Homo sapiens: one gene and its partners. The protein of the gene in region 2 interacts with the protein of the main gene of each other region in a biochemical or structural test. Each region holds a gene or a part of one and is shown on either strand. Other genes may lie near its edges. The genes, in order: KMT5A, LEF1, RNF138 and PITX2.

Region 1 (7,710 bases), on a different chromosome or scaffold from region 2:
GTGGCTCACACCTGTAATCCCAGCACCTTGGGAGGCAGAGGAGGGCAAATCACCTGAAATCAGGAGTTTGAGACCAGCCTGGCCAACATGGCGAAACCCCGTCTCTACTAAAAATACAAAAATTAGCTTGGCGTGGTTGCGCATGCCTGTAATCCCAGCTACTTGGGAGGCTGAGGCAGGAGAGTCACTTGAACCCAGGGGGGTGGAGTTTGCAGTGAGCCAAGATTGTGCCACTGCACTCTATCCTGGGTGACAGAGTGAGACTCTGTCTCCCAAAAAAAAAGAAAAGTCTGTATTTTTGGAGACCCCCCCACCAGGTGCTAAGGGATAATGAACTGAAGATGGCAAAATGAGGAGGGCAACCAACCAAGAGACCATTCAACAATGGCAGTAGAAATAGTGAAAGGTAGGTGGACTGACCCCTGAGACTAATATATTGGGGTTGTAAATATTTGCATGATTATAAAACTTCAAAATGAGTGAGGTGTTGCCTGGCATCTGACCAGTTTGTTTCTGTGACCCAGCAGGGCTCTCAAAGTGAATTGCAAGTTCAAAGCCCAATTTTCTAGAAGAAAAAGACTGTTCATTTGAAGTGCTGTAAATGATTTGGTATTTACAATTCTAAATATTGGCCAGGCGTGGTGGCTTTTGCCTGTAATCCCAGCACTCTGGGAGGCCGAGGTGGGCAGATAACCTGAGGTCAGGAGTTCAAGACTAGCCTGGCCAACATGGCGAAACCCCGTCTCTACTAAAAATACAAAAATTAGCTGGGTGTGGTGACAGGTGCCTGTAATCCCAGCTACTTGGGAAGCTGAGGCACAAGAATCACTTGAACACAGGAGAGGGAGGGTGAAGCGGGCTGAAATCACTCCACTGTACTCCAGCCTGGGTGACAGAGAGAGACTCTGTCTCAAAAAAAAAAAAAAAAAAAAAAATCTAAATCTAAATATCCAATTTAATAGCTTGCAAGGGCAGTAAAGCCTAAGAAACAGGTAACTACTAATTTGGGGGTCAAGTGAGACAGTGAGAATCAATAACTAATAATTACATAGGTGATTTGTAAGCTGCCATGGGAGGAGCTGACAAACATTATCTTCGCTTTGGGTAAGTAAGGGAGGTTGGGTGGCACAAGCAAAGACCCAGCCAAGCTAGAGTCTGGACAGCAAGTTTGGACTTCACGCTTCCTCTTCCAAAAAATGAGAATAACAATTTGTAAAGATCAATTGAGTTAATAAAGTGCCTGGCCCTCAGTGGTAATTATTATTATTTTGTTATTGTTCTTGTTTGTTTTTTTGAGATGGAGTCTTGCTCTGTTGCCCATGCTGGAGTGCGGTGACGTAATCTCGGCTCACTGCAAGCTCCACCTCCCAGGTTCAGGCAATTCTCCCTGCCTCAGCCTCCCAAGTAGCTGGGATTACAGGCATGCGCTGCCATGCCCGGCTAATTTTGTATTTTTAGTAGAGACGGGATTTCTCCATGTTGGTCAGACTGGTCTCGAACTCCCGACCTCAGGTGATCTGCCCGCCTTGGCCTCCCAAAGTGCTAGGATTACAGGTGTGAGCCACCATGCCTGGCCATAATTATTATTTAGTCATATTTTAAGTATTTCAATGATAGATGGTTAGTTTTCTTCATATATTAATTAATGCACTACTTTTAAAACAAGTAGTTTAAATGATTTTGCTGTGATGAGAAAAATGAACCCAGGAAGCATAGTTTTATTAAAATTTGTCAGATAAATTAGTCAGATAATGTTAAATATACTTTTAGATGCTTAACACTTTTCAAAGGAAAAATATTAGTATTAATTTTCTCCAAGAGTTGAGTGATGAAGCTCTTTAACCTGAAGTTTACTATGCCTCATTTTTTCATCAGGCTCTGGGTAAGTCTTATCCCAAAAGAACCTCTAGGGATGCTAGGAGAATAGATGATGCAACTGACTTCAGGGCCTGAAAACAAAGGGACCCAATAGATATTTACTGAATGAATCATTATTTTATTCATTATTATTGCTATAGGGAGCATACTGCACTAAAGCAAATTCCTACTAACACTTGAAGCCTTGAAATTTTGAGAAAAATATAATACCAAAACTTTTTTTTTTTTTTAATACTAATTCTACTCAACTTTCACGCTCAAGTTTTTGGCCCTTTGGCGTGAAGGAGACGCAGTGGCTGGAAATGACCAAGCGGTTGGAGATCTCTTTGCCGCATACCTGGGAGGCACTGTCCTGACAGCCAACTAAGTATGCAGAGGACTTCAGACAGGGCATCGCCTCCCAGGGCTGTACAAGCCCACCCAAGCCATCTACCGGGGGGCGAAGTCCTGACCAGATGCGGGGCGAACGACCGCGCCCGCGAGATGCCAGGAACCCGTTTTACCCCAAAGTGGGCCAGCGGGGCCCGGCCTTCGCTCCAGCGGCGCAGAGCTGACTCAGGACGTGGGGAGGGAGGAAAGGCGCCTGCTGCGGTGTCCACCCTGACGCGCACCCCAATATGCAGGTTATCGATCTGCGCCTTCGCCTCGGGATCACCTCCTTTCCCAAAGAGAGAGGGCCCCAAAGTGGGCGAAGCCTCACTCCTGCCCCCGCCCCACTTCTATCAATAACACCTATTCCCTGGAGGTGCCCTGCGCTTTAGTTTCCAAAGAGCTCTGACATATGGATCTGCTGCCGTGGAGAGGCAGGCCCGCAGGTGTTCACTTCATAGAAGGGAAACAGAAGCACGGCAGTGGGAAGGGTTTCTGGGGGCATCTGGAGCCGCAAGGGGGGGCCGGCGGGTTCCGCAGCAGCACCCCCTCTCCCCCCACGCGGGTCCCCAAGCTTGCCCCGAGCCACCCGAGGAGGACGCCTCCCCGCAGCCGCTGCCTCCACCCCGGCAACCCCTCCAGCACGACCCCCGACCCAGCCGCTCCGGTGCCGGCCACTTGGGCAAATACCTCTAGCCATGGCTCCACTCTGTCACCGCCTGGGATCTCCCGGGAAACCCAGCTTTCGAAAAAAGTTGCAACAACTCAGCCAACTGCTCCGCCGGGCTCCAGCTGCTCGCCCCGATTGGCGCCGCCTCCCGCCTCTCCGCAGGCTGCCCGTAGTGATAGGCCAACTCGGAGAAAGGCCCCGCCCTTCTCCCGCCTCTTCGGCGGCGGGGCGTGTCCAGCCGCCGCAATAACTGCAAACGCTTTCCCGACAGGTCCCGGCGGAGGAGGTGGGAGGGGTGTTTAAATTTGACCGTCGCCAGACGTTGAATGGCTGCGATGGAAGACACCCGAGCTGCCATTGGGAGGCCCCAGATTCCTCCCCCTCCCGCTGCTGAAGCTCCGCCTCCGGAGCGTGAGTAGCCCGGCTGGAGCCCTGGGCTCCGAGCCGACCGGATCTGGGACTTCCGGTTCTCTGTGGGCTTGACCGGAACCCGACCTTTGACCCCTCGATCTTCCCTTAAGAGCTGGGAAACCTGAGTCTCCCAGCAGTTTAGCAACTCCAGCACACCGACCTCTCCAGCAGTTTGATCCATTCATTCTCAGGTTTGAAAGGTTTTGGCCGGGCGCGGTGGCTCATGCCTGTAATCCCAGCACTTTGGGAGGCTGAGGCGGGCGGATCACCTGAGGTCCGTGGTTCGAGACCAGCCTGACCAATATAGAGAAACCCAGTCTCTACTAAAAATACAAAATTAGCCGGGCGTGGTATCGCATGCATGTAATCCCAGCTACTCGGGAGGCTGAGGCCGGAGAATAGCATGTAATCCCAGCTACTCGGGAGGCAGAGGTTACGGTGAGCCGAGATCGCGCCATTGCACTCCAGCCTGGGCAACAAGAGCGAAACACTGTCTCAAAAAAAAAAAAAAAAAAAAAGGTTTATTGAATATTCCAGTATTCAAAACCCGGCCGGGCGCGGTGGCTCACGCCTGTAATCTCAGCACTTTGGGAGGCCGAGGCGGGTGGATTACGAGGTCAGGAGATCGAGACCATCCTGGCTAACACGGTGAAACCCCGTCTCTACTAAAAATACAAAAAAAATGAGCCGGGCGTGGTGGCGGGCGCCTGTAGTCCCAGCTACCTGGGAGGCCGAGGCAGGACAATGGCGTGAACCCGGGAGACAGAGCTTGCAGTGAGCCGAGATCACGCCGCTGCACTCCAGCCTGGGCGACAGAACGAGACTCCGTCTCAAAAAAAGAAAAAAAAAAAAACCCACAGACACAACTCCTACCAACTAACTGGGTCAGTAGGGAAGGTCCTTCCAGGACCGCAAAGATCCTAATGCTTCACACCCACCCATTTTACAGATGGGGCAATAGAGGAAGCGGGTCACTTACGCGCTGCCCAAGGTCACCCAGCAATGTAATTGCAGGGCCTGGGTCAGTCTCTCCACTGTTCAAACACTAAATGGCTACCTTATCCCGAGGGAAGCAAGTATTCGCTGTTCCCCTCTGAGAGAGGGGGCTCAGTCAGTATGTTCCCAGAGAATCAGGTGTCCTGGAGTGTCTGCTTTGGACTCAGGGAAGGCGTCCAGTTACTACTGCTCTTCCCTGGGGCCCCTCCCAGGGGTGTGGGACGAGGTCACTAATCCATCCTGTCTCTTTGGTAATTGAAAAGGTTTTGGAGACCCAACCATTGCCCAAAGACTCTTCCAAAGCACCAGGAAAATAGGAAAGGAAAATAAAATGATATATGTGAAAGCACTGGGAAAGGTAGAAAAGGACACTTTTGTCACAAAGTCACTGTGTCACTTGGCACATCAGTTCAGCTCTCTGGCCTTCCATTTCCCTACCTGTCAAATGAAGGAGCTGGTGCCGTAATCTCCAACATGCCTTACAGCTTCCATAAATATGTGGAAGTGTGGCAGTGTGCAGTGGCTCTCACCTGTAATCCCAGCACTCTGGGAGGCCGAGGCAGGTGGATCACGAGGTCAGGAATTCAAGACCAGCCTGACCAACATGGTGAAAACCCCGTTTCTACTAAAAATACAAAAATTAGCCAGGCGTGGTGGTGCGTGCCTGTAATCTCACTACTCAGGAGGCTGAGGCGGAGAAGTGCTTGAACCCGGGAGGCAGAGGTTGCAGTGAGCCAAGATCGTCCCACTGCAATCCAGCCTGGGCACCAGAGCGAGACTCTGTCTCAAAACAAACAAACAAACAAACAAAAAATATATATAGAGAGAGAGGTGTTTGCTTTCTCCAAAATTGATTATTTCAACATTTATTGAGCTCTATGCCTGCCGCTGTTTTGGATCCCCCAAGGATCCGAAGGGAAAGTAGACACAGCTCCTTCCCTGCATTCTTTTAGGGAAGAAACAAGGCATTATTTAAAAGATAATTTTAAGGCTGGGTGTGGTGACTCACACCTGTAATCCCAGCACTTTGGGAGGCTGAGGTGGGCGGATCACCAGGTCAGAAGATCGAGACCATCCTGGCTAACACGGTGAAACCCCATCTCTACTAAAAATACAAAAAAAAAAAAATTAGCCGGGCGTGGTGGCAGGCACCTGGAGTCCCAGCTACTCGGGAGGCTGAGGCAGAGCTTGCAGTGAGCCGAGATCACGCCACTGCACTCCAGCCTAGGCGACAAAGAGAGACTCCATCTCAAAAAAAAAAAAAGAGAAAAAAGAAAAAAAAGATCATTTTGTTTATTTATTTTTATTTTTCTTGAGACGGAGTCTCTCTCTGTCTCCCTAGGCTGGAGTGCAGTGGTTTGATCTCGGCTCACTGCAACATCTGCCTCCTGGGCTCAAGCAATTCTCCTGCCTCAGCATTCTGAGTAGCTGGAATTATAGGCGCCCACTACCATGGCTGGCTAATTTTTGTATTTTTAGTAGAGATGGGGTTTCACCATGTTGGCCAGGCTGGATTCGAACTCCTAACCTCAATTGATATGACGGCCTCAGCCTCCCAAAGTGCTGGGATTACAGGCGTGACCCACTGCGCTCAGCCCAATTTTTGTATTTTTAATAGAGATAGTGTTTCTCCATGTTGGCCAGTCTGGTCTCAAACTCCTGGCATCATGTGATCCAGCTGCCTCAGCCTTCCAAAGTGCTAGGATTACAGGCATGAGCCCACCACCCCTAGCCTAAAAGATTATTTTTATTTTATTTATTTTTTAAGACAGGGTCGCATTCTGTCATCCAGGCTAGAGTGCAGGGGCACGTTCTCGACTCACTGCAACCTCCACCTCCTGGGCTCAAGCAATTCTCCTGCCTCAGCCTCCCAAGTAGTTGGGATTACAAGAGTGTGCCATCATGCCCACCTATTTTTTTTTTTTTGAGACGGAGTCTCGCTCTGTCACCCAGGCTGGAGTGCAATGGCGTGATCTCGGCTCACTGCAACCTCTGCCTCCTAGGTTCAAGCAATTCTCCTGCCTCAGCCTCCCGAGTAGCTGGGATTATAGGCATGCGCCAAAACACCCAGCTATTTCTTTTTTGTATTTTTAGTAGAGACGGGGTTCCACCATGCTCCCCAGGCTAGTCTTGAACTCCTGGCCTCAAGTGATCCACCCGCCTCAGCCTCCCAAAGCGCTTGCCTTACAGGCGTGAGCCACCGCGCCCGGGCATATTTTTGTATTTTTGGTAGAGAAGGGGTTTCACCACGTTGGCCAGGCTGGTCTTGAATTCCTGACCTCAAATGATCTACCTGCCTTGGCCTCCCGAAGTGTTGGGACTACAGGCGTGAGCCACACGCCCATCCAAAAGATTATTTAATTTAATTAATTTATTTATTTTATTTATTTATTTTTTGAGACAGAGTTTCACTCTTGTTGCCCAGGCTGGAGTGCAATGGCACAATCTCGGCTCACCGCAACCTCCACCTCCCAGGTTCAAGCGATTCTCCTGCCTCAACCTCCCGAGTAGCTGGGATTACAGGCATGCGCCACGATACCCAGCTAATTTTGTATTTTTAGTAGAGACAAGGGTTTCTCCATGTTGGTCAGGCTGGTCTCAAACTCCTGACCTCAGGTGATGATCAGTCCACCTCGGCCTCCCAAAGTGCTGGGATTACAGGGGTGAGCCACCGCACCCGGCCTATTTATTTTTTGAGACAGAGTCTTGCTCTATCGCCCAAGCTGGAGTGAAGTGGCAGGATCTTGGCTCACCACAACCTCCGCCTCCCGGGTTCAAGCGATTCTCCTGCCTCAGCCTCCCAGATAGCTGGGATTACAGGCACCCGCCACCACACCCAGCTAATTTTTGTATTTTTAGTAGAGGTGGGGTTTTGCCATGTTGGCCAGGCTGGTCTCAAACTCCTGACCTCAAGTGATCTGCCCACCTTGGCCTTCCAAATTGCTAGGACTACAGGCATGAGCCACTGCTCCCAGCCCAAAAGATCATTATAAATAGTGATTAATGCTATAAGGAAAAAAGGCAGGCCAGGCCTGGTGGCTTATGCTTGTAATCCCAGCACTTTGGGAGTCCGTGGCAGGTGTATCGCTTGATCTCATAAGTTTGAGATCAGCCTGGGTAATATCCACATTTCTACCCTGTTCTGTGATACAGAGCAGCAAACCATAATTCCCCGTTCTCAGTTAATGTTAGGTTCTTCCAATGAGAGCAGATAGAAGCAGTCTGGGAGGCAGGAGGAAGAGAGGGGACTTGTTCTTGCCTGTTTGCTTACTATTCCTAGCATGTTCCCCTCAGTAATAACACTGCCTCTGGCAGTAGTATTTGGTTCAGTCTCCAGGTTCTTTGTACACTCCCAGAGACAGCCTCCTTGTGCTCCCGCGGAGGCA
Region 2 (7,024 bases):
GCATAATAAATGTAACAGATTCTTGTGTGTTTCCAAAGAATTGCTATCAAATGAATTACTCTTGTCTTGTAAAAACACATTCTGATCCACCCAGTGACATGGAGCACTGGCATCTGGAAGGTCACTCAGGCTGATGAGATTTGGCTCTTCATTTGGCAAAAAAAAAGGGCCTGGAAAGACAGGGACTCTCACCTTGTTTGGAGTTGACATCTGATGGGATGTGTGACGGGTGTGATCCTGGAGAAAAGTGCTCGTCACTGTAAGTGATGAGGGGGGTGAGAGGATGGACCGCATGGGATGGCTGCACCACGGGCACTTTATTTGACTGCAAAGTAACCACAAGGTCAATAGTTAATATGGATGCCCAGCTCCAGTCTTTTCTCCCAAAGAAAAAAATTCACACAGCAGCAGTAACCAGTCATCAACATAACCCAAGAATCACCTTCAGACCTGGACAGGTGGAAATGTCTCTTTTAGAATTTTTCTGAATTTTTCCATGGTAAATACTTCTCAAATATATGAATATGTCACTGATATTCATGAGTTATCAGTTATTTCACCAGTGACTCTTCAGGGATTTAGGTTGATCACTACTCTTCCATATGGCATGAATTTCTGTACATATATATTTATACTCTCTTTTAGATTATTTCCTCAGGTTAAGTCAATAAAGAGCGAATTACAGCAAAATTTATGAATGTTTTACAACATTTGTATTCACTACATATGTCTGGCACAAAAAGCAAAAAACTGTCCAATGAGCAAATAAATGAATAAATATTGCCAATTCAAAGGATAAATTTTTAAACCCAATAAATATAAATTTCCTATACTGATATCCCCTCAGCTTACAGAGTTCATAACTCTATGTTGTACATCTTTAAGAACCATGGTACACCATTCTTTCGAGTTTTATAGCTTTGTCAATCAAACAAGACTAGCCATTATGCTTTGGCCCTCCTCAGTTCATCTTCTGCTTCTCTAGTTTCCATAAACATTAATTGATAAAAAGGAATTTCCAATCTTGAGTTGAACTGCATAATATGAAATACTGTCTTTTTTTTTTGAGATGGAGTTTCACTGTGTCGCCCAGGCTGGAGTGCAGTGGTGTGATCTTGGCTCACTGCAACCTCCACCTTCCGGGTTCAAGTGATTCTCCTGCCTCAGCCTCCCAAGTAGGACTACAGGCACCCGCCACCACATTCAGCTAATTTTTTTTGTATTTTTAGTAAAGACAGGGTTTCACTATATTGGCCAGGCTGGTTTTGAACTCCTGACTTTGTGATCTGCCCACTTTGGCCTCCCAAAGTGCTGGGATTATAGGCATGAGCCACCGTGTCCAGCTGAAATACTGCTTTAATAATATTTTTAATTGTTAAAATTGTATATTTTAACACACTTTATATGTCTTATACTTGTTTACAGACATTTTATTATTTAATTTGGAAGTCAACAGTCACACTTTTTAATTCAAGTTATCTAATTGGACTTCATCAATTTGAAATCTGTGATTACTTTGGTTACAAAGTTAAGGTTGTTCCCCCCAACCCAAAAGTGCTTACTAAGTAATTAAAAAATATAAAGAAGACTTAAGTAGGTTTAACCTAATTAGTAAAATCACTTATTTATTTATTATTTATTTTTTATTGATATGGCATAGCTGTAGAAATTTTGTGGTATATGTGATATTCTGATACCTGTATAAAAGGTGGAATGATCAAGTTAGGATAACTGGGATATCCATCACCTCAAACATTATCTTTCCTTTGTGTTGTGAACATTAAAATTCTTCCCTTCTAGCTATTAAATAATCTATTGTTAGCTACAGTTTCTCTACTGTACATACTACAACTTATTCCTTCTATCTAACCGTATTTTTATACCCATTAACAACTTCTCTAGGGGAATCATTTTAAAGAGACTCAATAAACCCTTCACCAAAGAAAAAGGGACTCAACACAATTATATACCTGTTAAAGGTGTTTGTTTCTGATTTTAAACTAATCTAATAATTAAAGCAGTTGCAGGAAAATCTCTACTTAAAAACACTATAGTAATGGGTAACATGAATTTAAGAGAAAATTGAGCATATCATTATGCTCAATTCACTAGTTCAGACATGTCTTCATCATAATTAGTTTGAATTAGTAAGATCTTACTATATTATTGACTAAAATGCATGTGAAATCAGTTTTCTCCTGAAGCAAATATTCATATTTTTTAAAAATTTGAGGAAGTGCCTAAAACTGCACAATGTGAACTGCTTAAAATGTAAGTCCATATCTGAATGGTTAAAGAGGGCCCCCAAAACACACTTGTGTATGGTGGCTGTACCTACGACATACACTAATTTTGAACTTAATATTTTTTACAAATTAGCCATAAAAAATATGTGGCTCCAATGAGAAGGACTCCCCTTAGAAAAATTAGAATTCTTATACCCTATCTTATAAGAAAAATTAGTAATTCTTCTTATACCCTATCATTACAACCTCCATCCAAAAGAAACTTACGGGGGGGGGAAAAAAAAGGAAAAAAAAATCACACTTTTTTTGGAAAATGATATAATTTCCATACTAGATTTTCCCTATTTTATAATTATCAGCTCTTCTTTAATGGCAAAACTTGCATAGCTCATATAGCTTTTTTGGCGTATATTAAATAGAGTGCCATTATCATAGCCACACAATTTTTCTCTACACACCTCAGCACAAACATCTATGCATATAAATGTGTAAAAGGTTAAACAAATCTTCTAATGCTTTTCGAGTGTTAATGACACAGTTTTCCAAATAACAGAATAAGCTTCTTAAATACATGGAATTTAGAATGCTAGAAGTGGGGGTGGGTAGATGTGAGGATAGGAGGAGTTTATTATGAACTCTTTTGAAAATGGAAACACAAATCTCAACGCCCAAATGTTAAAATCGATAGATTTCAAATATACTTTAGAATAATGGCTTTCAGTTTCATTTTAAAAGTCTCATAAATAAGCATAATTGCCAAACAATCTACAAAGATATTTTCTTAGGGTACTTATAAAGAGTAAACACTGTGGAAATCTTCTGGATATATTCTTTCTTTCCAGAGCACCACCTTAAGGAACTTGCATTAGCAGGCAGCATCTTCTTAATGTCTGACCTATCCCTCCAGTCATATAGCTCAGAATCTGGTGCCATGAATTTTTGCTAAATTATGCTATCCTTGCTCTCCTCTTAATTTTACGGTTTTCAACACAGATTTGCTTTCCTGTGGGAAAGAGATAAGAAGCCGAGGATTTTAATTTAAGCCTGGCCTTGTCTTATATTTTGCAAGATGGATAGCGAAAGCAGTACTAGTAGGTGTGTTAAAGCCAACAAGGATTATGTCCATTTTTGTGGCCAAATAATAAAAGTAATATGAAATTTCAATAGCATGTGTGAGCAGAATTCCAAGGGTTATGGTTTGCTTCCTGCCAACCATCTCCACTATGTATATAAACAGAACAAAGTGGATTCCAACTTACACTGCGGATATGTGGCACATCATCATCACAGTCAAGATTCCTCAGCCCAAAAATCTGCAGGCTTCCTCTGATTTCACAAGTTACTGCCCCTTGACACTATGTGCACACACAAAGTGAGAACCCTGGCACTGCTACTTTGGTTAAGTTTTAAGACAGCCAGTAAAACCATTCTTAATTCCATTCATTTAATCTCCTAATAAAATGTGGTATATATTTTCTTGTGGGGAGTAGGTAAGCGGAAGAATAATCAACCAACTATCTAAGTGTTTGTAGACAAATTAAGTGGCTACATCACATGCAGAGTTATACATGCCCGTGTGCATATGTGTGTATTTATTAAGCACCTAAAATGTTTCAAGCACTATTCTAGCACCAATGACCAACACACAGATAAGGTCTCTAATTCTCGCAGCTTACTTTCTGGGGCTCTGGAAGTGGCGTCAGGCAGCAGGGGGTGGGTATTGGAAACAATGAATATGTAAAAAAAAAAAAAAAAAAAAAAAAAAAAAAAAGACAAGCAAAATCTGAAAAGGCAGCATCAAGTACTATGAAGAAAATGAACCTGGTGATAGGAGAAAGTGTGTATCTAAGTATATGCCTTTTTATTATGTTTAAGCTCTAAGAAACCTAAAGTATATTTAGTAGCTTATTTTAGTTCCTTATTTTAATTTTACAGACTGGAAGCCGAGAAACAGAGGTCACCAGGGAATGGGTAGGTCAAGCCAGGACTACTGTATAAAATAGTACAGTCCTGCTCACTACACAACTCCAGTAACGCAGGGACACTGAATACAATGGGAATGAACCCCCTGGGCTGCCCAATACAGTGGAATCAGCAGTAGAAAAGTTCGATCCTTTTGGCTCTTACTCTGTGCTGGCTACTGTACACATAGTAAGTACCTCACTTAATAGAACCCAAGTCTCCTGATTCCTACTCGGGTGCTTTTCCTACTACACATCTCGCTGTAAGGGAGGGAAGGAGGGAGAGAGGGTAAAAATCACCTGCTTTTTGATTCACAGATACAATCAGGTAAGTCTTAGCTTCCAGTTGAGAATCACCAGGTAGTCCCAATATGTGCTCTGTTTCATTATCCCAGGGTCACAGGATGCACAGTTACTCCAGCTTTACGAGATACCTGGCAGCCCTGTCACCCCAAATTCTCCACTTCTGGTCAGAGGTTCAGTGACTTGTTTAAGCTCACAAGGCAGTAAGAGTTAGGCCAAAACCCTTGGTTTCTGATTCCAACTGCACATTCTTTAATCTCAGGCAGGTGATTGGTGGGTGAGCAAAGGAAAAGACAAAAAGAGTAGATACTTAAAAAAGAAAAAAAAGAAAGAAAGAAAAGGGAGAAAATATCAAGGATGGCTGTTTAGGGAGAAGCTTGAAACCCTTTCTTAAATTTGCAAATCACCATCAGGCCAACCTACCCACATAATACATAGTAATTACAGCAATTAACACTTACCAACTGCTTACTGTGTGCTAAGCACTTTATCCTCACAACAGCTTTGAGGCAGGTACTATTATTATCCCCCTTTTACAGATGAGGAAACAGGCATGGAGAAGAAAATATTCTTGAAGGGTATGTGCTCTAGCAAGCAGCCAAGCCAGGATTCAAATGCAGAAGTCTGGCTCTAGAGGCCAAGCTCATTACCTGTACATCATGTGGCCTTCCTGAAAGCCAAGTTCATAAAATCTTGGACACTGAGGTGACCATTTGGGCCACACCTGAGAGCATGTGACATCTATGAAATGGCTGTGTGGTCTCTGTCCCAGGCACAGGAATCACTTGAGACAAAGAAGCACCTCAGCAGAAGTGGGTAAAGCTACGGAGACTCAACTGCAGCCTTTCTCTCCAGGACTGGAAAACATGCCAAGGAAGCTTGGTTGGCTGCCACCCAGGCTGGTCCCTGCAGGTAAGGACCTCTTTGGCATCACAGCCAATAAAACCCATACCTCCTGTGGACACGAAGTGGGTGCCACTTAGGGATCCTGAGAGCCACCCCCAAAGCAGCATTCCCAGAAATGACCCACTCACCACTGGCAGGAATTGAAGGTGTCATGAAAGCTGTTAGCCTCAGAGGATGTGGTTCTGGGAAGAACTAAAAAGGTGGTTCAACTCCCTACTGGCTAAGGCCTGGGGCCTCCTGGATAGAGGAGTAACTGGGGGAGAAACCTGCTGTCCTGGTAGCTAGTCCTCATTTTCCACATCTCCAGGTTCTAACTAAACTAAACCCAAAGTGCGGGATCTGGCTGTGCATAAAGGTCTGGAGTTTCAACTGGCTGTGCATTTAATCAATAATCTTCTGGTAATAACTGAATCCAGGGGAATTTTAACACTTCATCAACTTATTGAGATGAGGAATTTCATCTGGCCTTGATTGTTATGGTGGCATTTTTGCTTTTCATTAAACACTTCAGAAGTCTGGTACTCGTGACATAAAGCCATGTAACTTCATGCTGCGCCTTTCCCTCCTTTTCTGAGAATCTGAGCTTCTCAAGCCTTCCCAGAAAGAGAGGCAGATTTACTCCAAAAGGATACATTGATTCTTGCATCTAGACCTCAGAAACAAGGTACTGGAAATATTTCCTAAGATCCACCAAAGCCAAACACCTGCTTCAGGTCTGATGTGGCTTTCAAATGTAAGACCCCCTACTGGTGGTGATGCAGCTGCATTTTTCAGATAAGAACGAGGCCCCAGGATCTTAAGATTCAAACGGTCCATGAGCCCAACTCTGGAGGAAAAGGGATGGTCTAGAGACCTGCACCATCATCAGACAACTGAAATGTTTTCTTAAGAGGGGAAGGAACATATCACAGGGAAAGGAATTAACATGGGTTGCACAGTTAGTAAGTACCAGTCATTACAGTAGCGCTTTTATATACTCTGGCACTCGTCCATGTAAGTGGGTATTATTACCCCCATATTTATAGATGAGAAGGCTGAGTCTTTTTGAACACAGAGCTAAGTAATAATTAGTGGAGAGAGGATCTGTGCCGGCATTTGTTTGATACCAAAGTCCCTGCTCTTCCTGCCCCACACTGTTTGGTGCTCAGCTCCTCTCTCCATCTCTATTCCAAACTACCCCCCAACCAAGTGAATGTGGCCTGCTGTGGCCTCAACTGTAATGAAGCATCTAGAGAGGAACAGTGGACCACTTGGAGAAAACTGATATTACCAGAGGCAATCAGACTACAACAGAATGCTGGAAGGGCTCCCTTTTAAAACGCATGGAAAACCCACTATTCTCCAAGTTCTCTGTAAGGTGGTGAATTCCAAACATTACGTCATTTAATCCTAAAGCCATACCTAAGTTAGGTGTTAAGATTTCTGTTTTATCGAGAAGGAAACAAGGCTCTGGGAATAATTCATTCTGGGAGCCAAAAGGAGACCCATTGTTTTCAGTAACTGGAGCCTGTAAATAGAGGGACTGGGGTTAAGGTTAGAGGCTGAGGAAAGATCAGGGTAAAGGAAAAATGACATCTAATTATGTAAAGTTGCAACATCCTATTATTT
Region 3 (7,024 bases), on a different chromosome or scaffold from region 2:
CTAGGCTTACAAATCAGTCAAAGACTGAAATTATCAAATGCCCATGAAAGAAAGAAATTTTTCTCTTTGTATTTCCTTCTAATAACAAAAAGAAAATATCTTTACAACAAGCTTTCACTTTTTAAAGAATTAAAATTATTACAGAAATCTCACTAGTCTTCAAAAATAGTAAATGTTATATAAATACAATTTTCTTATAGTTGAATTTTTCAGCTAGAACCTGCATTTAAAAAATTTCCTTTGGATTATTCCATTTAGCACTTCAAGTTTCTATTCTGCAACTCTAATAATAACTGGCTCAGATTTGTTAGGTTATATCAATCACATCGTTCAAAATTTGCTACTGTGTGTTAAATGTGTACAATAATAAAGTAAATGGGAGGAATGCATCAAATTTCAAAAGCAACATAATAATGAAAAATTCAAAAATAATATTACAAAAAGATAAAGTACAACAGGGATTCTCTTTCACCGTTACATTAGTGAAACATCTTTTTTACACCTTTAAAGCTAATGTCATAACTTTCATTTTTTAACTTATCAAGATGATGAAGTTTTTAGAAGCCCTACCTTTATTTTCAATCAAAAACTAAAATGACTGAATTACTTTTATTAATATACACATCAAGTTACTGTAACGGTGACTTCATGTAGTTTCCCCCTTAAAGATGGCACTTGCAGGTACAAAGATGCAGAGATGTCTACAGCCTTCAGATGTTTACTTGAAAAGATTCTTCAACAGCAGTTTGGTATTGGGTTTCTTCATCTAGCTGAAGATTCTAAAAACAATAACATTCATGTCAACAGGAAAAACATATTCAACTACTCTAATACTTTGCCCAAAACATTAGACATCTTGATACACATTACACATCTTGACACACATTACACACACTCAGGACAGTTATGTAAAACATATATAACAGTATCTTTTAAGATACAAGATTTGAATACCTGAACTTTAATAAGACATTAAGTTCAGTTGTAACTGTTCAAGAATAACAAACAAACAGAGAGGATCATCACAGAACAAAATTTGAGTGTTATAATGCCTTTATAAGTCATTCATAAAAAATATGGTTAACTGGAAAGCTGGGTAAGCATGCGCCTGTAGTTGCAACTATTCAGGAGGCTGAGGCAGAAGACAGTTTGAGCCTATGAGTTTGAGGTCAGCCTGGGCAACACAGGGAGACTGTCACTTTAAAAAATAAAAATAAAAAATGAAAAATAAAACTGAAGTTAATCATAACACACAATCATAAATGTGTCATCTCTAGAAAATAATGCCAAATATCTGACAGTAAACTGATTTTAAGAAAACAAGCATTTATTGAATTATGAGTTGAGTAAGAAATTTTTTGGGGGGCAGTTTGGCTCTGTCACTCAGGCTGGAGTGCAGTGGCACAATCTTGGCTCACTGCAACCTCCACCTCCTGGGCTCAAGCAATTCTTGTGCCTCAGCCTGCCAAGTAGCTAGGATTACAGATACGTACCACCACACCCAGCTAATTTTTGTATCTTTAGTAGAGACAGGGTTTTGCCATGTTGGCCAGGCTGGTCTTGAACTGCTGACCTCAGGTGATCCACCCGCCTCGGCCTCCCACAGTACTGGGATGACAGGCATGAGCCATCATGCCCAGATGAGTAATAAATTCTTAACCATAACATGAAGCCTACAGCTTATTCAATCGTTATAAAACTACTCCTTAATTTAAAAAATTATATTTGCTATCAATTTTATGCCCTATGCATTTCGCTTTAAAATCAAGGCCTCTATTTGACAATCTGAAATAATTAGATCACCTACTTTTCTTTTTTGAGACGGAGTCTCGCACTGTCACCCAGGCTGGAGTGCAGTGGCGTGATCTTCACGCACTGCAAGCTCTGCCTCCCGGGTTCATCCCATTCTCCTGCCTCAGCCTCCCGAGTAGCTGGGACTATAGGCACCTGCCAACACACCCGGCTAACTTTTTGTATTTTTAGTAAAGACGGGGTTTCACCGTGTTAGCCAGGATGGTCTCAATCTCCTGACCTTGTGATCCACCCACCTCGGCCTCCCAAAGTGCTGGGATTACAGGTGTGAGCCACCAAGCCCTGCCTAGATTACCTACTTTTCTATGGCAAGATAAAACAACTTGACAATTAGATCAAAAGTGGTTCACAAATTTTTGTATTTCCAAATACATTACATAGCAATCTTTCTTACAATGAGAATTTAATAATAATCTAGAATTACTTTATAAAATTGCTAAAGCAATAAAGCGCACCTAAATTTTACATATATTTGAATTTTTATTTTGAAATTGGCTAAATAATGCAAATTCTACAAAATTTAAAAACCATTTAACAAGAATGATGTAATTTCAACACTGGAAGGCAGACAAAAATGTATATTTTGTTCATGTCACTCTGCTTACCTAAACTGGAAAACAAATAGCCATTCTTTGTCAGGACTAATCTTAAATAAAGTTTTGATTAAACTGAAGTTGAATAAAATGCAATTTAATAATTAATAAAACAGGTTTTCACCTAATTAAAAAAGTATATCACACATTTAGAAGTACAAATTAATCCATTTTGCTTTATGAATTCATTTTTACATTATATAACTTCTCTTACACTCTTAGTCTCTTTGTAACCTGGCTTTGCCTGATAACTAAGCTCCCTCATTTTTAAAAACGTTGTGTCTTACATGCTAGATTTGAGAAATCTAAGATTTCTAGCATAATACAAGCAACTTATACTACATGAGAAATACATCCTCCATATGTTGTACCAATTTTACTTCTCTTGTAGGTACAATTTTCCCTTAAATCTTGACAGAGTTTTCATGTAAATCATCATTTTGTTAATCTGGGTGCTTGCTGTTACTCTTATTAATTCTCTCTCTAGTACAGGAGGTGGAGAGTAAACTCAATTTTTACCTTACCATTTCTACAAGCTAAAGTTCACCAGTATTATTAAAAACCTAAGAACTTGCTCTAAATCCATCCAGTAAGATACAACAGCTTGCCACAAAATTTAAGTCGATTACAAAAAAGTTATTTTAACTTTAATATTTAAACAGTACTTTCTTAATCTTGAAGAATTCACTTACCACAAATTCTCCATAATCAAATTGATGTCTCTGATTTAGATGACTAACGAAATTTCTGGTAATCTGGCTAGGATCTCCCCAAGGAAGAGACACACAAATAGGACATGTCTATAAGAAACAGATTGTTTTAAACAAAAAATAATAAAAACAATGAAATATTATACAATTGACAGTATTAAAATAACACAGGGATATGTTACCAAAAATATCTACGTGAGAAGCATTTTTAAAGGCCAAGTTCCATGACTAGATCATTTCCCAATCAATTACCTTAGATAAATGACATTAATCTAACACAGTGAGAAATCTTAGACATTCTATTCCTTAAATCTCTTATTACACAAATGTTTCAACAGAAAAACCACATCTAGCTTTTAATAATACCAACTGTAATGACAGTTATCACTAACTGGCTGCCTGCAACATATCCAATATATTATCTCATTTGATCCATACAATAACCATATAATTATTATTAGTTTTATTTCATTTGTAAGTAAAATAAAAATGAAGTAAACTGGAAAATTTACTTTAAATTGTATCCTTAGTTTTTCTTTTCTTTTCTTAAAACTAGAGACACAGTCTCACTGTTGTCCAGGCTGGGTCTCAAATTCCTGAGCTCAAGCAATCCTCCCGCCTTGGCCTCCCAAAGTGCTGGGATTAAAGGCATGTGCCACCACACCCAGCCATATCCTTACGTTTAAATGAAGTACATCTTAAAAACTGAATGGATAAATAACTGAAATAACACACAAAAAACCTTCAGTAATTAAACTCTAGCCAAAGTTTATGATATATCGAATATTATGCAGAAATGAATAAAAATTTGGTAATCCAATATAAAACTAAGTAAAATCTTAAATATGAGCGAGATTTCCTGGAACATCTTTGGCACTGTATTTGTCTATTTAAGCATAACTGAACCCATTCTAATAAGCAAAGTAGGTAGTACACCTTCTTAGGTGGTATGTGAGAGCTTAAGGTCATCCTCAATGGTTATTGAAGCATATTCTTTTTATTTTCTTTATTTTTAAATAGACAGGGTCTCACTATGTTGCCCAGGCTAGTCTCGAACTCCTGGGCTCAAGCAATCCTCCCCTCTCGGCCTCCCAAAGTGCTAAATTACAGGCATGAGCCACCGTGCCCGGTCCTGAAGCACATTCTTTCACAACTTTTCCTAGCATACTCACTAAAACAGCTTAGAAATATCTACAGTTCTTATTGATAACATTTTCCTTCCTATTCTCCTTTCTGAAGACAATTATTTATATATCAAAATGTTCAGCTGAAAGGGAAATCTCTCTCCCAGCTCAGTTTCTCCTGTTCCATTCACAGCTGAAATAACTTACCTATGAAACACTTCTAGGATCATTATATGTTGGAATCCTGAATTCTGCTCTATCTCCCTCATTATCAAAAAGCTCTCACCATTTTCTTACATACCCTCAAAATGTCAAAAAATATGTAGGCATCAAATACAAAGTCTAAGTCTTTTCCTTCCTTGCTTTATGCATTCACATACTATATGCTGCAAGAAAACAATAAAAATACCTACTGACTTTATTCTTACTTACAGGTATTTTCACCTACAGCAATCTACCTGACTAGATCTACTTGTCTGCCATCTACAGAGCAAGTAACTGAGGCCTCAATAGACAGGTTGTGCTACTGCGCAGGAATGAGTTCCCGGTTCATCTTTCATTACTTCACTCTTCTCCAGACTGTGCTATATTACCTCACACTATGCATCTCCCTTTTTATAATGAGAGTTACTGCAATTTTAAATATCTCATTTTGCTTCACAGTCATCAATCCTTTGTTGACAAAAATCTACCTTACTGATAATGCCCCAACCAAATATAAATCAACTACTTTCTCTTGCATACATGAAGTGAAATAAATAGAACAGCATGTTTTATTCTAAGCAGAAGACTGTCTCAAACGTATGTACTTACCACAGGAACTATCTGAAATAGGTGATTACTGTTACAGTGATCCAGTAAACGCTGTCTGGTAAAATTTGATTCTTGACACAGGGGACACTTAAAAGTAGGATGACCAGAAGAACTATAAAACAATTTTAAGTGAAACATACTTAATTCAGAATAACACAAAAATAACGCTCTCCTATTTTTTGAGGAATCACTATACATTTTTTAAAAAAGTTATAATTATTAGACTATTCAAAGATTCTCTCATTTTGAACATATGTATTCAGGAAATGATGCATTACAGAGGTTCCCAATCTCAGTTTACAGTACTCTTAGTGTCCTCAATAAATTTTTTCATGGCACCTCTAGGCCAAAACAAAAACAAAAACAAAAACCTAGCTGACTCCATATATTATGTAGTTAGGTCCAAACTTAATTGTAGTTGTTTTCTGATGCCAATAGCTGTCACTGTATGTCCCTTGAAAATTTTTAATATTCTGTAGTATTCCACATTTTGCAAACCTTTTATCTAGGAACTTAAAACTTCTAAAAGACTTCCATCAATATCGTATCTCTAATAAATACCAGGCCCTAGGAATCCAACATCCAAAATTCAAAGGAAAAGAAAAAACAAAAGCACTGATCATGAGAATGAAATACTCGAAAACATTCTGAGGATCAAGCATCACTGAGTTTTAATACTTCTGAATTTCAGGAAGGGACAGTTCAACACAGACAACTTTACCTGAATCGTGTGTGGAAGAAACCTGACCACAGTGAAAGAGAATAACTAAACTCTTCTAACCTAATGTGATTCTTAAAAGCAGTAACTGCATTTTCTATTTCTAAACTGCTAACTTCAAACACTATGCCTAATGATGTAACTGATTTTTTTTTTTTTTTTAAGTTTAATTTATGGCCAGGCGCAGTGGCTCATGCCTGTAATCCCAGCACTTTGGGAGGCCAAGGCAGGTGGATTATCTGAGGTCAGGAGTTCGAGACCAGCCTGGCCAACATGGTGAAACCCTGTTTCTACTAAAAATACAAAAATTAGCCGGGCGTGGTGGCAGGCACCTGTAATACCAGATACTTGGGAGGCTGAGGCAGGAGAATCACTTGAACCTGAGAGGCGCAGGTTGCAGTGAGCCAAGATCGCACCACTGCACTCCAGCCTGGGAAAACAAAGTGAGACTCCGTCTCAAAAAAAAAAAAAAAAAGTTTAATTTAAAAAGCTATTTGATAAGTGATAAATATAATATTACTTGCTAAAGTGGCAGGATTTTTCAAAAGCTTACCTTGTATTCTCTTGGTAAGTTTCTGTGTTATCAGATGTGGATGTTTCACTCCTATTGCTTAAGAAGCACAGGGGAAAAAGTTAATACCTCAAAGTAATGAAAACACACTAAAGGTTCATTATCTTGAACCATTAATGAAGAAGACTAGTCTGAATTTGTTTTAAAAGTCTGAACTTCAATACACCTTTTTCCTATTGGGTCCTTGAAAAAACAAAATTTGAACTTCAAATGGTTCTGAACTATGAAATAATTACAATATTAATTACTTTTAAATAAATTGACTGCTTACTAGATTCTTATTTATGTTCTTTAAAATTAACTTATGCACAGTTACAGAAGTATAGAGAATTTTGCAGAATTACCTTAAATCCCATTCCTCTACCTTTACCTAGACTAGTAAGGTTTTAAATGCTACGGTAGACTCAAGAATTTGTGAACTTTTTTACTTCAAACTAGGACATGGTATAAGGTTATGCCCTCCAAAGTGCAGTAATTTAAGAAAATATGTAAATGTTCATTATGTTTGTATTTTATTTCCAGAAAGGAAAGAAACCAGGCTTCACTAACATTTAATATACAGAACAACTTAACATCTCCACTTTTACCATATGCCAGAGAGTCATGTGTCACATGGAATATCAGAGGAATCCTGAGGGAAGAGTAAGTATTCCATACAGGGACCGTCACCTGTGTGCTACAGA
Region 4 (7,229 bases), 2.5 Mb from region 2:
GCCTTTTATCCACCAGCATAGCCTCATGCCTTGCACAAATGCCACCCAGAGAGTGTCTTCATTCCCTCTGATTTGGGAGAGCATTTTGGTCTTTATTCTTTTTATCGTTGTTTTCTTCTTTTTGTTTGCTCTGCTCTAACCGGGGGCTTTATTTTTTCTACCCAGAGCACTTAATTTTTTTTTTTTAACAGCAAAGCCTCTGGATGCCGCTTGATTTGCTTGATTCTGTTTTCTGCTTCCAGAATCCTAACAAATTTGGAATCTTCCACCGACCAGCATAAACCAGGACGTTGCTATTGGGTTATTTATTTGAGCTCATTTTTGCCAATCCATAAAGTACAGATTTGCTACAAAGTTAAGGTAAGCCCTTTTTACAAAACTATGATTATAATTTAGAAGAGGGGGTGTGAGTTTCAATTTCCAGAGTTCAACTCCTGAGAGAAGATAAATAAACCAAGCAGAAAAGTCTTTCTTCTTTTTTTCTTTCTCCTTCTAAGAGGACTAGTAGTTGTGTATTAAAACTTTGCTCCCGGAGATCACAAAACTAGGAAATAGGGTGTGTGGGAGAGACCTGAATGGCCGAAACAACCGTAAAGAAGGTGTAAGAAGCGCGAGCCCAGGAGGGAAAAAGCTGGGCCAGGGCCGGGACAAAGGTTTCCCAGGGAGGGCCAACTCTTCCGTGTCTCTGGCGGGTTTTCCTTGTTAAAGGCTCACAGGTTGGAGCCTGTTCGCGGCTCTTGGCCTGGTAGGGATTTTATTAGCTCTGCTCTGGCAACTGCAAGCCAGGAACACAATGTCCTGTGCAGGGGATTGCCCATGCAGCCCAGCTCGTGAGATCGCGGGATGGCGGGGCAGTGAGCCGGTGCCGCTCTGGGAGCCTGAGCCAGGGCGGCAGTCCTGTCGGCCTCGGAGAGGGAACTGTAATCTCGCAACCAGGCCGCCGCGAGGCCTTCTGCCTTTGCAAAGCTGCGCCCCACCGGCGCCCTCCCAGGCGGCGCTGCCTTCCACATTCTCTCCTGGTCTACTTGGCCTGTACCTCCACAACATCCTCCCCCCATCCCTCCCAGACTCCGTGCTGGCTCCTACCCGGACTCGGGCTTCCGTAAGGTTGGTCCACACAGCGATTTCTTCGCGTGTGGACATGTCCGGGTAGCGGTTCCTCTGGAAAGTGGCCTCCAGCTCCTGGAGCTGCTGGCTGGTAAAGTGAGTCCGCTGCCGCCTTTGCCGCTTCTTCTTAGACGGGTCCTCGGCGCCCACGTCCTCATTCTTCCCCTGCTGGCTTTTATCTTTCTCTGAAAACGAAACACACACACTTTCCCGTCAGCATGCCCACCTGCAACGCGGACGCCAACTGGACCGGCGGCAGAAGCCGTGGAAGAGCTGGGCTGCCTGGCGCCGGAGGAGGGTGCGCGCGGCGGCTCCGGGCCGCGAGGAGCGCTGCGCCTGTGGGGTGTGCAGGCGCAAGTGTGGGTGTCCGCGCCCCATTTCCTCCCCTCCCCCAGCGCCGCACGTTTTATTTACATGTTTATCTCACTGCAGCGGCACATTCACTTTTATAGCCTGTGCTTTCAAGTATATTTATACACCTCTGCGCAGACACACCAAATCTCCTGGGACGCGCACACGCGCGTGGTTTACAGACCCCCCTCCCCCTCGCAGAAAGCTCAGATTTCCATGCGGTTTGGGAAGGCTAGGAAAAGATGTGGGGATTCGGTTGGGCACCGAAGTTCGCCGGCCCTTTCCCAAAAAAAAAAAAAAAATGCCTCTTCGCGAAGGGCATTTCTGAGTGGTTTCAGGCAATTTCCTAACGAGTGGAGCTCCTCGGGAGCTGAAAGCCGAGAGGAAAACAGGGACAGAGGTCGGCGGCCTCTGAAGGTCCTCGAATCAAGATGCTGGGATTTTTGTGACCCAGGAAACAGAAGGGAGGCCAGGGTACGAATAGAGAGGGCGGCAGAATTGCTCGCGCCCTTAGCGCCCCAGGAGCCGGGCCGGTCGAGGGAGAACTAAAGGGATGCGGGGTAGTCAAAATTCCGGCTCCCGGAAGTTCTGCGGGGAGCCAGGCGAACGACCACTCCCACCACGCCTCCCCCCGGAGGGGCTGACTTCCTTGGGGCGAGAGGGAGCGGGTGGCGCAGAGCAGCTGAGCGGGAATGTCTGCAGGGCGGCGCGGCGCCTTACCTGCGGCCTCCGGGCTGGAGGTGTCGGAGATGGTGTGCACCTCCAGCCTGTGCTTGGAGGAGTCCAGCGACCGGGGCTGACCGGGAGCCAGAACCGAAGCCATGGCTAACGGCTGGGGATGGTGACAGGAAGATGAGGAGACGGCCGACAGCTTGGTCCCCGCTGCTCGGTGCTCCAAGTGAAGCGGGCCTTTCATGCAGTTCATGGACGAGGGAGCGCGACGCTCTACTAGTCCTTGGCTACTGCCCCGCCGAGCCCCCGTAGCCGCCGCTGCCCGCTCCGGGTCGCGCTCTAGGCGCGGAGTTTCCCCGCTGCGGGGAGAGCCAGGGGACGCAACCCCCGCCGAGTTCTCAAGCCAAGCTGCCCCCGTCTCCTCCGGAAGGCTCAAGCGAAAAAGTCCGGAGACGGAAAGTCAGCGGGCAAACGAAGACATGGGATGTGGGCAGAAGGGCACCACTCAGAGCGTCTTTAGGGAGCAGGCTTCCAAGCTCCAAAGCGAAACAAGAGTGGGCAAAGACCCCCTTCTTCTCTCCCTCCCTCCCCCAAGAACCCCTCCAATAAGGAAAGCTAACGCCGACCGCGCTCTGCCCGCCCCCCCCCCACGCGGCAGCCCTGACAGAGAAGTGTCAAGAGTGACAGGGACAGGTAGGTGATATTAGATCCCCTGCGGCGGCAGCAGCCGCTGCAGCCACGACGCGGCCCTCTGAGCGCACCCTCCGCAACGCGCACACGCACACCCCTCGGGCGGTCGAACAGGAGCCGGGCCTTGCCGCAGCTCAGCTCCAGGCACCCAGGCGAGCGACGGACCAGATCTGCGGCTCCGCGCTTCCCTGTTGGCCTAACATCTTAAAACCAGAGGCGGGCTTCCTGGTGCCGAGACGTCACTCCGCCGCGGCCCTCCCCAGCCCTCTCCGCCTCCGCCTCCTCCCAGACCCTTCTCCGGGTGCGACTGACGTGGCTCCGCACCAATCAGGACGCCCCGAGCCGCGGTGGAGGGACTGTCCTGCCTGCACCTATCAGCAGTGCGGGGCCGGGCTACTGCCTCGCCGTGCGCACTGGGTCTACACAGGCAAGCTCCCGGGAATTCAGCTCCTGCCCAGCCCAAGGCGATCCGGCTTTTAGTACGAACCCAAAGGTGAAGAGATGAGGCTAGGAGTCGAAGGCTTGGGAGAAGAGAGTGGAATGGTCAAGAAGAGAAAGGTACAAGGATCAACAAGACACCCACTCTTTGTGTCTCACTACATCCATTTCCAATCCCCCACCCCATATAAAAAGGAGACACGTTACTTAAAACTAGAAAATTTGAAAAACAGCAACAAATCACCTCTCCGATCTTAAATTTTCCAAACAGCCTGTCAAGTGAATGCTGCGCTAATCTGAAGAAGCTTTAATTGCAAAGAAGACAGAGCCCTGAAAAGGCAGGCTAATAAATTAGAAATCGAGAAGCAAATGGACCCGTCAAAAGAAAATTACCTTGACTTTAAACGAACAACTGTTTGGTGGTTCACTCTGGATTTATACAAGAATAAAAAGTCGCCTCAGATCACGTTCTCTGTGATGCTTATTAGTCCCCAGACAGAAAACACACAATAGAAGAGAAACCCTAACCCAGCGTTTTCAAAATGCTGAAAGCTTATCCATTCTACTTAACGTTGATTAAGACACATATCCTAGATCTTTCAAATTCCTTGTACACTGTATTAAGCTCGTCCTAACCCGAGAGAGCCACGCTTTAAATTCGACTCTCTTGTTTACTTTATTATCAATCAGATTTAAATCCATAAAGCCTGTAGAATCAACAACCTTGAGCTAATTATATATGAAATATGCCTTAATGAATTTCCATACAATTAAGAATGTTGCCAAATAACCAATTTCAAGGATAATTTTTAACAGTCATTTTCTTTTCCCAGTGAGCTCAAGGCTGTCTTGAGCCATTAAAGTCCAAGCAGGCAGAAGGGGTGTGTGTGAGCTAAGGGCGAAAAGCCTAGAACTGCGCTCAACTAGCAAAAGCAAAACCTTATTTATATAAAACAAAAAAAATCACCTTTGGAGACATCAACTCTTTATAGCACTGTTTCCAAGCAAATTTAATTTCCAAAGAAATTAAAGAAAGAAATCCAAACATATTCAAAATAATTTTTGAAAGTCCTTTTGTCCCCCAGCATAGGTCAGCTGGAGAGGACAAACTAATCTCCTCTGGGTTTCTGCATGGGCGATTGTTTTACTATGGAGTTAGTGTTATCATCTCTGAATGTGTATTTGTTTGACATTACAGTCAATGATTTGCAATGCCAGCATGAAGTATCTTTAAAACACTCCCTCCTTGTCCTTGTTCACAAGATTGGGAAACTTATTCGATGTGGAACAAAGTGGATGAAGCAGACTACAAATATATTTGCAACTTATGTGTCTCTCCTTTGCCCTGACCACCCCCAAACCCTATCTGCAACTCCTCCCCATTTTAAACTTGCAGTCCAAAGACGCACATGAGAATTGTTTTTCAGTCTTTCTTCACCAGTATCATCCCACTTTAAGAATAATTTAGCTGCAAGGGAGGAATTTCTTCATAGTAAGCTTTAAATCAGCATTTCTGCTTTTAACCTTTTATTCCACTTTACCCCATTCCACACATACAGACACCTGCTCAGAGTAAAACACATCCTCATGTGACAGGTCTGCATTAGCTGAGGCTCATACATCCAGCTATATTAGGTCCTGCAATCTTATCACTAAATTATACACATTACACTAGCAGCCTGTTGGTAAAGAAGGTTAAATTAATTTACATTCTGCTCATTATCTGGTGCTTAAATGACGCATTTTATCCCGGAGATTTGGCGGAGAATCTCCTTCTCAGACCCCACAGCGTTTCACTGAAGACAATGCTCTTACATTTGTAGTGGTTTTTAATCTGATAAGACTCTAATTTGCTTAAGTCTTTTAAATAAGGGTTTTAAATGTTTCTAGCCGTTTTCTTATTGAATTTCCTCTAATTCCCCCAAGATCATAAAGTATATGTGTAAAGTAAATATTTCCTCCCATTGCACTGCCAGCCGATGACCTATAACTAAGTCAATAAGAATCCAGCTCTTTTCTGCTGAATGTGTTTACTAATCATATTCCAGTTTCTTCTTTTAAACCTCAGAATAGCTGTGGTCCCCACAATACCATGCCCCTTAAAGCTTCATTTCATGAAGGGACTCCATCACATTAAAGAATGAAAAAAATCTCCACTGTAGTTAGTATACACAGCCCCTCACTCCTTGTTTTTCAAGATTCAAACCCCAGAGCTGCAAATATTTTTGGAAGCTTGGGTGTTAATGCCTTATTTTAGAAAGCCGAGAAGCCCCACAGAGCCATATAGATTTCTAAACCCATCTCTCATAAACCCACAGAATTTTGATAAAAGCTCTGGTGGCTCCACTCTACCGATGGAACTTTCATCACGACAAATATACATGTATGAAGGACCTCAATCAGCCTCCAAAGTGGTTGAAAAACCCAAGGGCACGTGACTGCTCCTCATAGTGCCAACGTGTGCGAGATGTTGGAAGCACTGGGGATCAGCAGCAGCCTAGATGCCTAAAAAGATAAGGTGTCCTAATTTGTGTGGACCCATTGAAGTCAAGTGGTGAATAAAGACAATTATCTAGATAATTCAGATTAAAGTAAAAGCAAAACCATATCTATTTGTATATATATATTCACATCCATTTTATATTACAGACACACACACGCACACACACACTGGCTCTGTAAACAACTGACTCAAAGTGAGGATTTTCTTTGCATTTTTCCAGCAGGAGTTTCAACATTCTCCTAATCTCCTAATCACTTTACACACTCACAGCAGCGGCGATTGGGTGACATTCTTCTCAGGCCCCCTGTGTGGCAGGACACCAACATGATAAGTCTGCATGGGGAAAAGGAGGTATGTGGTGGGAACTAAGAAACACTGTCCAGTGAAAACTCTGTGGCATGGTGGTGGTTGATTTTGGAGATTTAATGTACATAAGACTTGTGGGTGCACAGGCATAGGCAGCATGGATGAGAAAGGGGCCAGAAGAAAATAAATCTTATGCATTTTGTGATTCCAGCATTACTGTGACCTCTGGCTAAGTTCTTCTTAATTGGTTTTAGAAATTACTATGAGTTCAGCCTCTAACACAGAAATTTCCAATACGGAGAACATTGGTGGGATCCTGGTAGGGAAACTAGAGGTGCTGCATGGCTCACGTGGGGCAAAGAAGGAAAGCCCAGTGCCGGCGTGAGGTTTTGAGTCTGGGAGACATCAGGGGTTGTCTCGATTGGGGTTTCTTGCTTATTCTTTCAAAGAAAGACCCTAGAGGAGGGAAATGTGTGACATGGGGTCAGCCGTGTTTTGTGCTGGTATTTGCCACCGATTACCAGTCTTAAAGTCTTATTTAATTTCACACTCTTCAGTGTTAGTTGTGCAAAGTCCCTCTGGCCATGGCAGTGAGCGGTTGGGCTGTGCCGCCAAACTCTCCGTATCAATCTGGCCTGGGACTCAACCAAGTGATCTCTGACTTTTGGAAAGAGTCTGTCTTCAGAGTTCACCCAGAAGATGGCTTAATTAGACATCTCCCTGAGCTGTTAGGCCTTAGACGGGTGGGAGTCCTGCCCTGCCCAAGCTAGCTCAAGGACGAGGCCCGCCTGGACTCAGCTTGGAGCCACGTGATGGGCGTGAGTGTGTGAGCTCCTGGTAAGGCGCAGAGGTCAGATGGAGACCTTGCATCCTGCCCGAGAAGTGCCCCACCCCCTCCAATATCTGGCTTTTCTCTGCATACAAACCAAGCTGAAAACAGTCCACTACCCACCACCCCTCATAGCTATGGAACCAAATAACCCAGAAATTAAAAGCTTCACTGTAGCTGTCCTTTTCCCCATTTCCTAAATGGAATTTAAAAAGCTCTGGCTTGTCAAAAGGGGAAGATTATTTTCTGAATTGGAAGTCTGTAGATATATTGAGCAACAGCCACCCTCTCTGGGTCCCTGCAAATGGTACCCATTTTTCCAACCCACAGCTC

Evidence for each region.
Region 1: the proteins of LEF1 (region 2) and KMT5A form a complex in vitro, tested with the Homo sapiens proteins (one study listed by BioGRID).
Region 3: of the proteins of LEF1 (region 2) and RNF138, one has a biochemical effect on the other in vitro, tested with the Homo sapiens proteins (one study listed by BioGRID).
Region 4: the proteins of LEF1 (region 2) and PITX2 form a complex in vitro, tested with the Homo sapiens proteins (one study listed by BioGRID).

What each region holds. Positions count from the first base shown.
Region 1 is NC_000012.12:123,379,436-123,387,145, reverse strand, and holds the start of KMT5A (N-lysine methyltransferase KMT5A), read right to left. Parts: upstream 3,015-7,710; 5' UTR 2,948-3,014; coding exon 2,938-2,947; intron 1-2,937. UniProt on the Homo sapiens protein: Protein-lysine N-methyltransferase that monomethylates both histones and non-histone proteins. Specifically monomethylates 'Lys-20' of histone H4 (H4K20me1).
Region 2 is NC_000004.12:108,088,933-108,095,956, forward strand, and holds part of LEF1 (lymphoid enhancer-binding factor 1), read right to left. Parts: intron 326-7,024; coding exon 193-325; intron 1-192. UniProt on the Homo sapiens protein: Transcription factor that binds DNA in a sequence-specific manner. Participates in the Wnt signaling pathway. Activates transcription of target genes in the presence of CTNNB1 and EP300.
Region 3 is NC_000018.10:32,122,874-32,129,897, reverse strand, and holds part of RNF138 (E3 ubiquitin-protein ligase RNF138), read right to left. Parts: intron 6,381-7,024; coding exon 6,324-6,380; intron 5,165-6,323; coding exon 5,053-5,164; intron 3,206-5,052; coding exon 3,098-3,205; intron 780-3,097; coding exon 711-779; 3' UTR 1-710. UniProt on the Homo sapiens protein: E3 ubiquitin-protein ligase involved in DNA damage response by promoting DNA resection and homologous recombination.
Region 4 is NC_000004.12:110,620,078-110,627,306, forward strand, and holds the start of PITX2 (pituitary homeobox 2), read right to left. Parts: upstream 3,001-7,229; 5' UTR 2,384-3,000; coding exon 2,179-2,383; intron 1,557-2,178; exon of another isoform or gene 1,522-1,556; intron 1,293-1,521; coding exon 1,087-1,292; intron 1-1,086. UniProt on the Homo sapiens protein: May play a role in myoblast differentiation. When unphosphorylated, associates with an ELAVL1-containing complex, which stabilizes cyclin mRNA and ensuring cell proliferation.